3 linked regions of the Homo sapiens genome follow. The protein of the gene in region 2 purifies or fractionates together with the protein of the main gene of each other region. This does not show direct contact. Each region holds a gene or a part of one and is shown on either strand. Other genes may lie near its edges. The genes, in order: SYAP1, MAP7D3 and GSTCD.

Region 1 (3,652 bases), about 120 Mb from region 2:
TCTCGCTCTGTCACCCAGGCTGGAGTGCAGTGACGCGATCTCGGCTCACTGCAAGCTCCGCCTCCCAGGTTCATGCCATTCTCCTGCCTCAGCCTTCCGAATAGCTGGGACTACAGGCACCCACCACCAGGCCCGGCTAATTTTTTTTTGTATTTTTAGTAGAGACGGGGTTTCACCGTGTTAGCCAGGATGGTCTCGATCTCCTGACCTCGTGATCTGCCCGCCTCGGCCTCCCAAAGTGCTAGGATTACAAGCGTGAGCCATTGCCTCTGACAAGAATCAATTTTGATGCAAAATTTACAACACATTTTTGTGCACTGGCTTCAGAATAACAATTTTCTACAATTAGCTTTGGAATTAGGGAGACGAATAGTTTCTTTGCTTTGATTTGTTTTGTTTTTTACCTTCCAGTACGGCTGTCTCCTCTTGCTTTTTGTCAAGCACTAGTTGCTCCATTTCTTTCCTTAGATCTTCCTGATTTAGGTTACAGGCATCGAAGGCATCACTGACAAACTCAGAAACACCTGGGCTAGTAGAAATTTCTTCCTCATCCTGAAATGCAACAAATGAGCTCTTGAAATGGTTTGCTAAGCGACATTTGTGTTATTCTGGTTTGCTATTGTCTCACAATTTAATGCCGTGCTATTTTTATTTCTTTTCTCTGCGAGCTGTAAGACAATGAGCACTGCTCTCCAACCTTCTAACTTGCAGTTGCTTGGTAACTACATGAGTTACCACCTGAGGCTATTATTCTCCTTCACAGTTTGAATCACTCCAACCCTTCTCTCCAATCCCTGATGAACACATCTAGAATTACATATGCCAGTAAATCGTCCTCAAGTCTCAGCCCTAGTTCCTTGACTATTCAAGTACCAGATGCTGCTTCTTCCAAACCCATATTCATACATAGTTTTAAATGGTATCAGAAAGAGTTAACACAGTTACTTTATTTCCAGATATCAACTACTAGGTACAATGTAAAACTGGATTACCTCTTGAGTTTTAAGCTGAGATTTGATTACAACGGGTGGCGTTTTGGGCCGTACTGCCTCTAAGAAGTGAGAATAAGAGAGACAATAATTGCTTGGTTCAGTTCTGAATACATATTATAATCACAGTAAAATATCCACAAGTATTATGATACTAAATAATTTTCAGAAATGAATTTTTATGTTATGCTTTCAGCTTTTCTTAAGTTATAAGAAACAGCCATGGTGAAACCATCTCAACCTCTTACTTTGGGGATATTTTTATCTATCTATCTACCTATCCATTTATTTATTTTTAGACATGGGGTGTCACTATGTTGCCCAGGCTGGACTCGAACTTCTGGGCTCAAGTGATCCTCCTGCCTCAGCCTCCTGGGGATATTTTTAACATGTCATCATATTCAATACATATCCTTACATAAAATTTCCAGCAGGAAATAATTTTTAACTACAGTGTTAGCAAAATTCATTGAAGAATAGTTCTGTACTTTTTTAGAATAATGAGAATTAAGCTATTTATCAAGTTTGCCTGCTGATAAGAGTGCTAGAAAAAGGCAGTCTTTATGGAATACTGTCATAAATCCATTTTGTTAAACAAGGCAGTATTTGGCAAAATGGCATTTTCCAACAAAATTAACATAAATGCTAAAGAATAACAGACAATTGGGATGCATGTTAACACTGATATACAAAATGACAAATTTTCCTGTGTAGAGCAACTTCACTCCATTTCCCTGACACTAACAGCAGTGTCAGATCCTGTCCTAGTATTCTGTATAACCTGTACCTCAGGACATGCTGTTTTGCTTAATCATTTAAAATTCCGTGAATTAAATCACCCCGCTTCTTGTGGGATAAATGTCCAGTTGTAATGAGTACCTACTATACACAGCAGGTACTCACTAAGAATTTAAACTATGACACAAAATGTGTTTCTTATTTTAATTATTACAGATTTCAAACAGCTGCCCTTATTATAAAACACATTCCCACAACCAGGGGTAAGTTAGTGTCACAATGAGTCCAATGTTCATCAGTGCCTAGCTCAGAACTAGATAGATCCTTGTAACTTGGGAGTGGAATGGAGCTTTGTTCTGCTCTACAGACTACACACACTGGAGAAACATCAGGTTGAAACAAACAAAAAGGAGGCGGACTGAATCAGGGTAGAGGACAGAAGTATAAAGAATCACATGGTTAAGGGCCAAAAATGAGAGGGGGGGAAGATGACGGATGTTTGAGAGAGAAATAAAACGAAAAAAAAACTCGCCAGGCACAGTGGCTCATGCCTGTAAGTCCCAGCTACTTGGGAAGCTGAGGCAGGAGGATCGCTTGAGTCTAGGAGTTTGAGGACAGCCTGGGCAACATAGTGAGACCCGTGTCTAAAAAAAAAAACAAAAACGAAAACAAGGAATGAGAAAGGAGATAAGCAAAGTAAAGGAAAGCTTGGGGAAGACATGTGTGAGCTGGGTCAGAGAGAAGGCAGTAAGAGAAAAATGAAGATTTCCTCTGGGAAGAAAAGAATTTTTCCCTAAGGCAATGACATTTCTGGTACGTATAAGAGGTCAAGCTCATTTGAGTCTCTAAGAACAACTTTTTCTGTAGAGTGCTGTCTTCTACCCAGAATATACCTGCCAGCGGCAAATCTTGCTCTCTGCCATTGCTCTTCTCCTCCTTCCCTGCGGCCTGCTGTTGGGCAGCCAGGGCCGTGAGCTGGGCTGACTGCTTAATCAGGGAGACGCGGTAAAAGTAGTTCCTCCAGAACACTTCTTCCTTCACACTTTTAAAGAAAGGCAAATTAGAACAGTGGAAAAAGGCAAAATTGAAAATCAATAAAAAGCAGACAGACAAGAACACATTTGAGAACGCACACAGACAAGTGCACGCAGGGGTTATTTGTTGTAAAGGGGACTGGAGTAGATGATTTGCAAGAGCACTTTCAAAGCTGAGTGAGGTTCAGAGGGGGTTCATATTGGCTTTAACAATTTTTTTTTTTTGACACGGAGTCTTGCTCTGTTGCCCAGGTTGGAGTGCAGTGGTGTGATCTCAGCTGACTGCAACCTCCGCCTCCTGGGTTCCAGCAATTCTCTTGCCTCAGCCTCCCGAGTTGCTGGGATTATAGGTGCCCGCCACCATGCACAGCTAATTTTTGTATTTTTAGTAGAGACGGGGTTTCACAATGTTGGCCTGGCTGGTCTCAAACTCCTGACCTCATGATCTGCCCGCCTCGGCCTCCCAAAGTGCTGGGATTACAGGCGTGAGCCACCGCACCCAGCCCATATTCACTTTAGAATTGAAAGCTAACAACAGGATAAACCTAACAGCTATCTTCCCCGTAGCAGCAAAATACAAGTTACAGAATACCAATGAAACCTCAGCATTTCTTGGTATCTTAATGATACCAATACTGCTCTCGGTAGAAGAAAACATGGCATTGTTGTGAAACTAGCATAATCAACCTGGGAAACCAGAAGCAGAGCCAGGACTCCACCAATCACTTGCTGTTTCTCAAGAGGATTAAATGCCTTCCAGCAGTGAGAAGCAAGCATTGTGGCTGTTGTTCCTTATGAAAGAGAATGTTTGGCAGCTTGCTAATAACTAGTAACCAGTAAGAGTTAGCAATGGGGTGGGAAATGCTTGATAAAAAGATTGAAGTGCAGTTC
Region 2 (4,239 bases):
CAACAGAACCATCACAGGGAAGAGTAACAAGCACTGAAATAGTTGCAGGAAGACAACCAGAGCTTGAAAACTCACATCTAGGCTGGGTGTGGTGGCTCATGCCTGTAATCCCAGCACTTTTGGAGGCTGAGGCAGGAAGATCACTTGAGGCCAGGAGTGCAAGACCAGCCTAGGCAACATAGCAAGACCCTATCTCTAAAAAAAAAAAAAAAAAAAAAAGAAAAAAAGAGAAGAAGAAAGAAGAAGAAGAAGAAAGAAGAAAGAAGAAAGAAGACGAAGAGAAAAAAAAAAAAGCCAGGTATGGTGCCATGACTGTGGTCCCAGCTACTCAGGAGGCTAAGGTGGGAGGATTGCATGAACCTCAGAGTTTGAGGCTGCAGTGAGCTATGATCGTGCCACTGTACTCCAGCCTTGGCCACAGAGTGAGACCTTGTCTCTAAAACAAACAAACAAACAAAAAAACTCACATCTTTCTATTCCAGAAGTGGAACTCTGCCAAATCACCAACTGGATGAAGAGGGAAATCAGGGGATTTGATCCCTGTTCATTCAATTTGCTGGCTGCCTGTGTTCATAGCTCAGCCAACAATTGGTGTTGCCTTTATACCACCACCAGTACACTTTTTTTAGTATTATAATGAAAAAACCCTTGTTTTATCTCCAAAGTTTATTTTATATAGCACACATTTATATGGAACTGTAACAGTGTTTCAACACAAGACATTTGTGCAGAAAAATAACAGGAACTCTTTTGTTAGGATGATTGTCTCTGTTTTATACATGAAAGAGCTAGTATATAAAAATAGTTTTTAAACCAAAGGTAACCTTCTCTATTCTATATCAAAAGTACAATACTCTGAGTGGCAAAGAACCAGGGAATCTGAAAGAATTACCTCCTTTTACTAATCCAAGACTGGCAGCCAAAAGGAACACTGGCCTGCTTCAGACTATTTACGATTCAACACTGAAAACTCATTAGGAGAATTAATCTGCATTTGAATTTTATGGAATCATATACTGTGTGTGCATACATACGTGTATGTACATCTGTGTGCATTTCTGTGTGCCCATCACACGAACTCACTGGCAGCCAGTGGCTAGAGAAAGGCAAGCAAATTTTGGTTGTATCTCAAGCCTGAGTGTATACTCAACGACAGAACTGGAGAGTACAGGCAGAAAAGTACTTTAAACATTTAGAGGAATTAAACATACCCCACGGGACAACAGCCATATACTCCTTTATGTACACAATAAAAATAATATATGTTTCTGTAGATAAACACCAATATGTCCTTCAAAAGGAAACACTGACAAGAGCATGAAAGGTGCTGACTGTTCCAAGATGGGGCTTTACAGGACTCCCAGCATTTCAGGTTATTAGTGCCTGTGTACTCACTGGCACAGATGGGTAGAGTTAAAAATATACATATATCACAGTAAAATACAATTTGCTGGATTTTGCAACCTTTGGTATTTTTATATTAGAAACAATCTGACAGCTCTTGTGAGCGATCCTGCGGCCCTTGCATAATCTATTCTGTTCTCTACAAGATCAACTGTGAGTTTTTAGCTGTCAAAATTGTCACTGGTACACAGAAAAAGCATTACTTGGCTGGGTGCAGTGGCTCACACCTGTAATCCCAACACTTTGGGAGGCCAAGACGGGTGGATCTCTTGAGGCCAGGATTTCGAGACTAGCCTGGTGAACATGGTAAAACCCTATCTCTACTAAAATACAAAAAAATTAGCCAGGTGTGGTGGCACATGCCTGTAATCCCAGCTACTGGGGAGGCTGAGACAGGAGAATTGCTTGAGATGAGGAGGCGGAGGTTGCAGTGAGCCGAGATTGTGCCACTGCACTGCAGCCTGGGCGACAGGGCAAGACTCCGTCTCAAAAAAAAAAAAAAGAAAAAGAAAAAGAAAAAGCATTACTTTAAGATTTCAAATATATACTGAAAGAGAATTAGTTCTGCAATCAGATTCTTCTAGAAACTCCACAGTTACAGTTTCAGGAAAGCATCCTTGATGCACTCACTCCAGCAAACACATTGGTGGGACAACACAAGAATGAGAGACAATGATGATTTTCCAAAGAAAACAAAAACCACTCTTTACTTAGAACTCTTGCTTAGACACAAGAGAATAAGATGACTTTAACATCTGAGATATACATCAAAGTGGCCTTTTGACAGTTTCTTTCAATTTTTCGGTGTCACTTCCTTTACCAGGTTCAAGTCAGAAGCAGAAAAATTTGAGGACTGATGGGCCCAGGAGTTGAGTTATCCAGAGTGGAAGATGTATTCATCTCCCAGGCTGAGTAAGGTTTACATATCTGACCAGAGGGAAAAGTAAAAGAAAGATCAGTAGAGAAGATGCTAGTCTCACAGCAACTTGTCCCTGGCCTCCCTTCAGGGCACACGCCCAGGACTCTCAGCAGCCCCTCTGGAGTTGCTGACACACTGGTCCTATAAATGTCCTTCACTTCCCCAGTCCCCAACCAGGCCCAAGGTGCTTCTCAATTTCAAAGAGAACTTCTCAAGGAAAGAAAAACAAGAGGCTTCTGGTTTTGGAAACAGGTTGAGGCTTATTCCGAAGACCTCCCTAATCTTCTGCCCTAAGCAACTGTCTGTGTGCTTGCCAAGCAACCAGCAGACCAGGAGCTCAGAGGAGTCTGAGATGCAAGCTTGAAAAGATCATTTTTTTTTTTGAGACAGAGTCTTGTTCTGTCACCCAGGCTAGAGTGCAGTGGCAGGATCTCGGCTCACTGCAACCTCCGCCTCCTGGGTTCAAGTGATTCTCCTGCCTCAGCCTCCAAAGTAGCCGGGATTACAGGCATGCATTACCACACCCGGCTAATTTTTGTATTTTTAGTAGAGACAGGGTTTCACCATGTTGGCCAGGCTGGTCTCAAACTCCTGACCTCAAGTGATCTGCCCGCCTTGGCCTCCCAAAGTGCTGGGATTACAGGCGTAAGCCACTGCACCTGGCCAGAACTTATTTTTTATATCCGGCCTGAAATGTGGTACATAAAAATTAGAATCAAGTCATCTACTCTCTACTTTCTCAAAACCAACTTAATGGAAGACTCTCACATCATTCCTGCAGACCCACAACTGTCTTCTCCTTCTCTTCCAAAGCTATATGGTGCAAAGACTGCCCTGGAATGGCTAGAAGGAGGGGAGCGGGTTCAGGGTCAATTGCCTTTCAAGAAAAAGGTAGATGAGATGAGGACTTACCCAAATGAGGAGAAACAGGTTTGCTTCTTCTCTTATTGTCTAAAGGTGTCTGAGGACTTTGGCAAGATGTCATGGAATCCTTCAGATTTTGTTTGTGCCTGTCAGGAGAAAAATGTGACAAAGATAGTTCTGTGTGACTTAAACAATGTTGGTGATCTTGTCACAGATACGCTGCTGCTCATAATTCATACTAACAGAGGATCTGCTGGTGGTGTTGGTTTCATCCGCCTTTCTGGTTTTCGTTGTGTGACTGGTCATTCTTTTGGAAGATGGTCTGGAAAGAGACAGTTTGGTTAGAATCCCAATTATTCCCAAACCAAGGCTCTGGCCTAAAAGAAGCTTTGTCCTTTAATTAACTTCTAAGAAATGCCTTGGAATTAAAAAACATTTCAGAATCATAGAACAGGATGACTGAAAGGAACCCTAGAGATCACAGGACACACTGATTTTCAAACTGTATTCCAGAAAGCCCTAGGTCCCACGGAAGCACCAGGAGTAGGAGCAGCTAAGCACGCAGGACTCCAGAAACCATGCCCCTCCCTTACATTGGTCAAGGATGCGGCCAGTGAGGTGTAGTAACAGAATTGGTACAGGTCCTCTAGCTCTAATGCTCCTTCCACATCATCACACCTCTCAGCAGACTCCTGTTCCTGTGGGCCTTGCAGGTGAATGTCTTCTCAGGCAATTGCCCATGTAGCATTCCTTTCCATGAATCAGTTCCTGCTCTCCTGACCTAACTTTTGACCTTGTTTCCTTACATTGACAATGAGCATATTATGGCCGGGTGTGGTGGCTTACGCCTGTAATCCCAGCACTTTGGGAGGCCGAGGTGGGCAGATCACTTGAGCCAAGGAGGTTCAAGACCAGCCTGGCCAACATGGTGAAACCTCAACTCTTAAAAAAAAAATGAAAAATAAAAAAATAATAAAATGAGGATATTACTGTCACACTCACAGTTGTGATGATAATTGAAATAGGTAATATAAAATGCCTGGTATATAGCA
Region 3 (3,652 bases), on a different chromosome or scaffold from region 2:
ACAAATTTACCACTAAATAAGTGGCATCAACCATTTTTGCAATATGCCAGCAAAAAGTGAGGTTCCCAACTTTATGCCGATGGGAACACAGGAAGAGGTATTTAGTTTTGCTAAAAAATCAATTTCTAAAAGAGGAATGATTTTACCTAAGCTAATAAAGATGTCTGTGTGTGTGTGTGTATGTGTGTATTTAAACTCAATTCAAAGCATTAGAAGTTAAAATGTAGAAAATTAAATCATAAGTGGTCAAATTACAAGATTTTATAAAATGATAAAATGCAACTTTCTGTCTTATAGGCGTACAATAATGTTTTAAATATTTCTGTCAAAGTGTACTTGCTTACTAGTAGCAACTGAAAAATAATATACAATCTTCTAGTATTGGAACAGTAGGATTTTGCCCTAGTATAGCTATTCATTGCTATTTCTCCCATAATGTTGATACGCTATCTACTAGAAAATTCTAGCAAATAAATTGAATGGGGGGAAACATGAGTGTACATATTAATTTATTCCTTTTAAATCTATTTCTAAGACTTTTCAGAGGAGAGGGTATCGTCAGGCCCCTTTCCTTATGAGGTGCTGAGCCATCAGGGGTTAACTTTGTAAAGTAATAAAGTATTTTCTGAAAAGGAAGAGCTTGCAGCAGGTTTATATATAATACCTTAGCATTTCCATGTTTGTCTCTGACAAATTAAAAAAAAACAAAAAAAACACCTCATCGATTCTACTTGTTATTGTTTTCCATCTTTGGTTTTATTCTGTTTAGCAGAACTGGGTATTTTCCCTAGTTCTTCTAATTTTGACCCTTAGTAATTCAAACCTTGATTTAGCAAAATTGACTCTTACTTTTATGTCCTTGACTTTATTCCTGCGACTAAATATTCTGTCCCTAGATTCAGTTTTATGTTTCTGGTAACTTGACCTTGATTACGGATGTTGAACTTGATCCTGATTCTGATCATTTGGATGGCCACTCCATTCACCTCAATGTATGTTAATGCAAGCAAAAAGGCTTGCCAACATAACCACTATATGAATTAAAATGACTACTTTATTACCCAAGATGATTTAAAGAGAAAAATATAACAAATATCAAGGGTTTATCAAAGAAGGATGAATTCTGGAAAACATGAGGTGGGCGGATCACAAGGTCAGGAGTTCGAAAGCAGCCTGGCCAACATGGTGAAACCCCATCTCTACTTAAAAAATACAAAAATTAGCCAGGCATGGTGGCGTGCACCTATAATCCCAGCTACTTGGGAGGCTGAGGCAGGAGAATTGCTTCAACCCAGGAAGCGGAGGTTGCAGTGAGCTGCGATTACACCACTGCACACAGCCTAGGTGACAGAGCGAGACTCCATCTCAAAAAAAAAAGAAAAAAAAATCCAGTAAAAATACAAAGGAACGAAGGAAAATATTTTGAGAATTAGTTTATGTATTCAAATAATTTTAATAAATTTCTTCAATAAAGGAATGGATATGCCACTTTCATTCAATTCTGGTGAAACTGGAAACACAGTTATCCAAAGAAGTCAAGAAGACAGAAGACCAAGTACTTCATAATGTATCAAATGACTGCTCTAATGACGGAACTTGGTAATAGAAGAGAGGGATCATGGAGAAGAGAACCTAGGAATCATCTGACTAGGAAAAAATTTAAAAATCAATGTCTTCTTCCCACTCAACTCCATGGACTCTGTGAAGACATATGACATCTGGCATTTAAAATAGCAATCAACATCTAAACAATTCCTGGATCTCTCTCTTTTTATATTGTTTTGGTTGCCAAATTTGGTTCAATTTTGAGGAAAAGAGAAATGTTCTTTAAGAAAATGACAATTGATGAATACTGCCGAGTTTACTTGTGAAGCAAAGCCTTCAAATACATAGATTTTCGATAGCAGTCTCTTCTGTCCATAGAGATACCTGAATTGTTGGTGATATATAATGAGAATGAAATCTAATATCTGATTCCTTAGTAGGGAAAAGGGGGAAATGCTTCCAAGAAAAAAACCCAAACAAAAGCAAAAAGCAATGCAGCTCTTGAAAACCAATTGGAAGGCTGCAGAGAGCTAAGCTTCCTATGTTCACTCTGGTATTATTTTCACCCTGTTCTTTTTTCCTCCACAGAGGGAATGTGTGTGTGCACACGTGTGTGCGTGTGTGAGTGTGTGTATGTAAGACAGACAGAGAGAGAGAGAGAGAGATCTTCCTACTCAGAAAACGTTCTATCTATTCTCCCCCAGCACATAATAACAGAGCCAGCTACTTTACTCTCAGAGAGAACAGAGAAAAGCACACAGGTCAGAATAAAATATTTTCAGTTTGATAATACCTAACATAAGATTAATTTAAGTGACTAACAATTCATTATAAAATTTAGCTGACAAGATTTTTAGTTTTTTTTTTTTTAACTGCACCCTCTAATAGTAGACGTCCAACGGAGTATCCATTGCACCACAGAGCCGACTTGGACCTTCTACTATTAGAAAGTAATCACAACAGAAACTTGAAATTAATAATAACAATTGTTAACATTTTAGCAACTTCACATTAAAAGTCATAGTAATTACTAACTTTGATTGAGAGCTTACTATGTGCCAAGCACTGTTCTCCATACTTCACACAAACTTTAATTTGTTCCTTACATTTTTCCTTTTAGATAGGTACTATTATTATCACCATTTTACAGATAAGAAAATGGAGAAAGATATTAATAACTTTCCTAGCAGCATATTGACAATAAAAAGTAAAACAGAAATTCAAACCTAGGCAATTTCATAGACTGAAACTCATAGTAATGTGTACAGTCCAGATGAAACCTTACCAAGAAATGATGGATACAGGGCAAGAGCACAATATCTGCCAGAGTGAAGTAAAGCCCTTCTGCAAACACATGCTCCAGAGGTGGAAGGTCGGAGGCTTTTGCTTTTCTGATGTGAGAAGGCTCTCTGTTGGTAGTAGCTGGTTCTTCCTGTACTGTGAGCTTTGAGAATGCCACTTTCAGTTCCAGACTCTTGGATGAAGAATCCAACCCTTCAGATGTTTCCTGTGTGTGGACCTTGCTCTTTGCCTTTCCCTTAGTAAGGGGAGGCCCAACTCCATCAGCCTTCTGTTGCTTGAGCTTCTGCCTGCGGAGTTTATCATCATTATGCACTCTAACAGGCTCACTAAGCTTTTTCTCTAGCTGTAGTATTTCTACAGGTATAGTTGGGGGCTGGTCAGAAGATTCTCTGAGAAAATTCTCAATAGCCAAAGGGATGGTGAGTTCACATAGCCTGGTCCACTGACTAACCTACAAAACAAAAACAAAACAAGAAATGAAAAGATTTTTTAATTTCAATATAACTTTAGAAAAAATAACTGTCTTATTGGGAAATAAGTTTTGAGCTCAATCATCCCTGGGCTAGGCTTTTATGTTGTATCAGGAGACACATCACAGTGCTTCAGAAGTAAAAACATTAAGCAAAAGAAGTTTAGCATTCCTGTATTCCCCTTACTAAATAAATCATTACTTCCCAAAGCCTTTACAATATACCTCCCCTGTCCTACCCTCCTCCTAGCCCCCACAATAAGCAGGGCTTCCAAAGCATTGCTATTTGAGCTCCTATTTATATGTAAACATTCCATTTAAAAATCAACATAACTA

What was found.
Region 1: the proteins of MAP7D3 (region 2) and SYAP1 purify together in Homo sapiens (co-immunoprecipitation; one large-scale study listed by IntAct). This does not show direct contact.
Region 3: the proteins of MAP7D3 (region 2) and GSTCD fractionate together in Homo sapiens (co-fractionation; one large-scale study listed by BioGRID). This does not show direct contact.

What each region holds. Positions count from the first base shown.
Region 1 is NC_000023.11:16,754,062-16,757,713, reverse strand, and holds part of SYAP1 (synapse-associated protein 1), read right to left. Parts: intron 2,770-3,652; coding exon 2,621-2,769; intron 1,052-2,620; coding exon 993-1,051; intron 553-992; coding exon 405-552; intron 1-404.
Region 2 is NC_000023.11:136,216,163-136,220,401, forward strand, and holds the end of MAP7D3 (MAP7 domain-containing protein 3), read right to left. Parts: intron 3,510-4,239; coding exon 3,431-3,509; intron 3,334-3,430; coding exon 3,268-3,333; 3' UTR 3,236-3,267; intron 2,332-3,235; 3' UTR 652-2,331; downstream 1-651. UniProt on the Homo sapiens protein: Promotes the assembly and stability of microtubules.
Region 3 is NC_000004.12:105,718,706-105,722,357, reverse strand, and holds part of GSTCD (glutathione S-transferase C-terminal domain-containing protein), read right to left. Parts: intron 3,299-3,652; coding exon 2,831-3,298; intron 1-2,830.